Linked DNA regions of Homo sapiens: region 1 is linked to region 2. Evidence: fine-mapped expression QTL. Tissue or cell type: whole blood. Region 2 holds a variant in brackets; the other region holds the start of a gene. All regions are shown on one strand. Distances are from middle to middle.

What was found. PIP is the estimated chance that this variant, and not a neighbour inherited with it, causes the effect.
Region 1: it holds the start of MYO9A, and the variant in region 2 is fine-mapped to the expression of MYO9A in whole blood (INTERVAL, PIP 0.95).

What each region holds. Positions count from the first base shown.
Region 1 is chr15:72,116,586-72,119,271 of GRCh38, reverse strand. It overlaps MYO9A (myosin IXA), which reads left to right and starts at 1,122. Exons shown (of 42, transcript NM_006901.4): 1 at 1,122-1,592. SENP8 (SUMO peptidase family member, NEDD8 specific) reads right to left here and starts at 869. Exons shown (of 2, transcript NM_145204.4): 1 at 808-869. RefSeq lists a silencer at 1,001-1,770 and an enhancer at 1,971-2,180.
Region 2 is chr15:72,500,429-72,503,114 of GRCh38, reverse strand. All of the region lies in intron 1 of ARIH1 (ariadne RBR E3 ubiquitin protein ligase 1), which reads right to left. Among named protein-coding and RNA genes, the nearest start is that of ARIH1, 27 kb to the right of the region's middle. The variant G/A (reference allele first, on the strand shown) is at 1,081.

The sequences.
Region 1 (2,686 bases), 380 kb after region 2:
ATTCAAATGCACATACAAGGTTGCGTTCCACTAGTGATCTTGATCTTATAAATTAGCCTCCCTCACCCTCGAAGAGGCCACTTCTCGGTTTCATGGTACGCTTTTGAGTCTTCTACCTAAACAGAAAACATTCCTGAGGGCCATATTCTCGTTCCTCATTTCTCTAACTTTATAACGATGCTTCTTTAAAGGGAAGTCTACACTAGTACGGTTTCCATCAGGTTTATTTTACTTCTTTTTTCTCTTTCAGACCACCACTGTCACATGCTCTTGCGCCCGTTATTCTGCTTTTACCTCCTTTCGTATTTCTTTGACCAGGTACTGGATTACTAGTCTTTTAACACAGTCCTCTAAAAGTGACCCAAAAGTCACCCTGGAAAGGGCTTCCTCACGTTATCCTCCTACACAACCTGGGACCCCTCTTCTGTGCGCAGACAGCATCCCGTGCATTTTTCTCTATTGTCACTTTATTGTACTACCACTGCGGATTCTCTCACGGTCTCCTATACAAAAGCACTTCAAAAAGCTGACACCACTTAATTCGCCTCTGACATTCTGGAACCCAAGGCATGGAAACCACTCAGTGAAAAGTCTGAGAAATGAATGGAAACGGAGGTCGGGGCGGGGACAATGGAGGGGGCAGTGGGTGGAGAGAGCGTGCGTGTTTGAAAAGGGGCGGGGGCTATGACCGGCGGCGCTGAGAATCCAGGTCCAGAATCGGGAGGGAGCACGGATACGCCAGAATCTGAGTGGGTGGGAGAGCGATCCACTGCCGAGACAAACCGAAGTGGGGAGGAGGCTTCTTACCTGCCTCGGGCCTCACCACCCCAACCAGCCTTCAGGCACCTCTGTGTTGGCCGGAAAGCGACAGCTACGGTCGCAAACTCAGAGGTTTCGTCCCCAACCTTGCGACATCCCTTTCCAGTACAGGGAGAATCTAAAGCTGAGTTCCCTGCTCTGCCGTAAGGTGAAGAAGAAAAAATTTGGGCGGGGCCGCCTGGGGCGTAGGAAAGGGGGCGTGTCTGCGCAAGCGCACGCTGTACTCTCCAGTGGCGTCACGTGCGGGGGCGGGACAGGGCGGGGCCGACCCGTGCTGGCAGTAGGGGGCGTGGGAGGTAAGTGCGCGCGCGCCTGCTCGCCTGCAGCCGGGGAGTCGCGCGGGGCGGGGCCGCGTGCGCGGGGTCGGGGGCGCGCGACCGAAGCGGATAAGGGACGCGGCGGCGGTTGGCTGTGTCTGTTGAGAGAGTACAGGACAGCCCGGACTGCGAGAGGCGGCGGCGGAGGCAGTAGTTGCACCGGCAGAGGCGGCCGCTGGCAGCGGTTGAGGCGGCGGTCCAACGCGTGCTCTCTGGGCGGGGTGCGGCGGGGGATGTGCCTGCTCAGGCCGGGCGGAGTCTCTCTGACAGGGCGGGGGATGCGCCGCGGCCGCTCGCCCGGACCCTGAGGCTGCTGGGCCCACCCTCCCGGAACCGTCCGACCCTCGGTGGCCTCGGCCTCTTCTGCCATCTCCGGTCCTACCCTGGGGCGGAGGGTGGAAGGCAGCTTCCGTCGAAGAGGAGGGGGCTGCGGTGGCCACCGCGGCGGAGCCCGAGGTAAGACCCGCCCAAGCGCCCAGCGGCCCTGCAGCCCGTCCTGGCCCACGTCTCAGCCTCGCTATTTGGCTCCGGTCGGGCCGCCCCGCCCCGTCCCAGCGGAGACGCCCCGCGAGCGGGTCTGCGCCGAGCCTCCCAAACACCAGATCACGGCCCCGGATCCCCAGTAGACCCCACCCCCTGTATCTTCCATTGGCCGGGCACCATTCCGGCCCTCCAGCCTCCCCGGAGATTCTGTCACGGTCCCCCCAACCCAGCAGACCCCATTAGTACCCCTCAGAGTCCCTTAGGACTCTTAATGGAGCTTCTAGACTACGTTACATCCTCCCTTGGGCTGACGTGATTACAGTTCTCAGGCAAAGTCTCGACCGCCCCCTAACCCATTGCGTCCCCCATGTGCCCCTCGCCCTACTCTTCTTAGTAGAACCCCTCCCAGCTCGCTCATCACCAAGCCGACTAGCACTAACCCTAGCCATCACGGCTTTCAGATAGCCGCTGTCATGGTGTTCTTACTCCCGGTAGATGTGGTGTCAGTCCCTCTAGACACCGTCACAGACTTTGGCTTCTCTCCCACCACCGACTGTAGCCTCTCTCAACAGACCTCTCCTCAAGCAAACCTTGTTATCTTTCTCCTTAGTCGCGATCCTTTCTTTGGTTGAAAGGGCTTTGCCATGAAATCCTGAGGGAATATTTGCTTAGCCTAATGTATTCCCTCCATTGTGGCTTAAGGGGACCGACCGAGACCCATGTTTGGAGGGGTTGGGCTGAAAAAAGTGGGAGGCAGAGTGAAGTTATGGAAGCATGAGGCCAGTTGTGTGTGTGCCATTATAAGGTCACAGAGCCTGCACCTCGTCTTGTCTGTTCTGTGTAGAACGTGTGAGGTTGTCCAGCACTGATGTTTTAGGGACCTCTGTAAGGATTAAATCACGTTGCACTAGTGGATATAACTATGTCGTCTTGTAGTATTACTTCACCTCCTTGTCGATTGCTGCAGATACTAGAACTGTTTCTTATTTTTATTTTTAAAGGATACTAGGGGACTTTTTTTGGATTCACTGTTTTTTGGATTTGCTAGAAAAATAAGATTTGTAGCA
Region 2 (2,686 bases):
TAGTTTTTGGCCTTCTAGACTACTTAGGACAGAGAAGCACCTAGTGGGGCTAAGGGAGACAATCCACACAATCTCTAGATGGCTTAAAAGTATGTGCATTTTAAAAGAATTTACAACTAAACACTGATCATCAAACTTCCCAGTTATGAATATTTACTTCTAAGCTACCACAGGAGAAGGAAGGTAAAAGGTAAAAATGTTGAGGATAATATTCTTGAGAGAACTCCCCCTTAAAGAGGCTTCTCAGATTACTTCAGCAGGCAGGAATGTCATACCTTCATCACTCTTTTTTTTAATTTTATTTTATTTAAGACAGGGTCTGGCTCTGTCGCTCAGGCTGGAGTACAGTGGCGAGATCTTGGCTCACTGCAACTTCTGCCTCCCAGGCTCAGGCAATCCTCTCACCTCAGCTTCCCAAGTAACTGGGACTACAGGCACGTGCCACGATGCCAGGCTAATTTTTTTATTTTTTTGTAGAGACAGGGTTTCGCCATGTTGCCCTGGCTGGTCTGAAACTCTTGGGCTGAAGCAATCAGCCTGTCTTAGCCTCCCAAAGTGCTGGGATTACAGCCATGAGTGAGTGCCCAGCCACTCATTACTCTTGGAGATTATTTAAAGCAAAATTTAACAATGACAAGTTTCAATTAACTGTTGGCAATCCTATAAATACATAACAATTTGAAATTTTGCTGAGATATGCATTTGATTTAAATATGTAATCCTGATGCATCCAAACTTGTTAATAAATGTGCCTAGCCAATGACACATCTGGGCTTTGCTGTTCTTTGCACATTTATTTTATGAGGGAAATTACTTCCTTCTATGTCATCCCAAATATAAAGATTTCACCTCTAGAAAACATCAAGAGTTTAATCAGTGTTTTAATACAATGTTTCTGTAAGTAGAAGGATGTTATCACTATGTATAATCATTTGATTTCTTCCATAAAAATTCAGCGGCAAACCAAAGTGGGGAGAGATAATGGAAGGGTATATTTACATGAACAATAGAAACAATAGGTAAGGTATCCTTCAATGTTATATCAAAAAAAAATACTCAAGACTTAAAATAGCAGTCTAT[G/A]ACTTTGCATCAAGAGACAAGTCACTTCTAATATATATAACACCCTAGTTTTTAAACTTTTATCGTTACCTGAAACTCCATTCAGGCAAGATTTTCTTGGGTTGCAGTCTCTTAACTGGCTATTCCTTATAGGGGCAAAAAAGCCCTATTGATAAAAAGGGTACAAACTAAAGGTAGAGCCAAGAACCAGGTAACTTAAATTCCAAACTGCCCTGGCACAGTGGGGCTAATGTAAACCATAAATATAGACCACCTCATGCTACTTTATTATTTTTGTGGTGATTAGAATTGTGAGATGATTAAAGTTATTTTGTAACCTTTCAGTTATTTGTTCACATACTCACTTCTGGGTTCCAACTGTTAAGCCCTAAGTATCAGCATTCCACGTATCTGCTGTGGCATATACTAAAAATGTTCCACCAAACACACAAGCAAAACATTCGCGTGACTTCAATGTAACTCCACTTCTTTAACACAACCACTAGGTCATCAACAAACCATCTAGAGACAGCATACAAAAATTTGATTTTTAACAGCATTTGAACCAGTACTTTCTCAAACCGTGCAACTCAAAACACTTACTGATAAGTGGTGGGATTCTGATTAGCAATTCACTGCTTCTTACTCATCCATACTATATATTTGTATATACAGTAAATAAGATTTTGTTCAATAACAAACATAAGATTATTTGAAAACCATACATCTAACTTTATTTTAAAAGAGTGGGCATTTAAATAAATTTGTCTCTTAAAAACTGTTTTCTAAGAAAAATTCTATTTTTGAAAAAAGCCATTGTAGGCTTCTTTAAAGCTAATAAAAGTCATAAATCCAAATGATCTTGAATTAGACAAAAATATACCCCTGTATCCTTTAAGTTTTAAAACCAAGCAATAACAGGCCATGTAAATCTCCAGTACATTCTCTATCAATTATTCTCAAAATACACAGCTCAATAATTACGAATCATGACAAAGGAATACATAGTGTGTACCTCCTCCCATGAAGGCTGATAGTGTATATTTGGTCTAAGAACACGTCTACATAAACTTCCTGACGATATTTTAAAGAATGAAGGTATCATTAAATGTAGACCTTAAGGATTACATTAAATCACTTTTAAGTTATTTTATTTAATATACATACATAGTTTTAGAAGTTAATGGTACTGCAAGATTTAACAGTGTTCTTTGCCATACTTCAGTCACTACTGATTTCTAATCCTCTGAGGTAACCATTTTAAACTCTTCTGTGTCTTCTAGTATTTACTTTTATGCTAAATAATATGCTTATGCTCAAGGAGTTATTATTTTTCTATTTTAGATATTATCTGTCACCTTCCTAATGTGAAAGATGAGGATCTGGCACGCTACATGCACCTCTCAATCTTTCTTCCATAACTTATCATTATTTTAAGTTATATCCATTGTTTTTCACATTCAACTGATAGGAATTCCAAAAGAAGAAGAGAGGGAATGAAATTAGCAAAGCAGTAACAGAAGTTAATTCCCCAAAGCTTTATAAGGACACAAGTCTTCCAGTTGAAAGGGTCCACTGAAGATCCAGCACAATGGATTAGAAGATTCACACTTACATATCTCTTCAG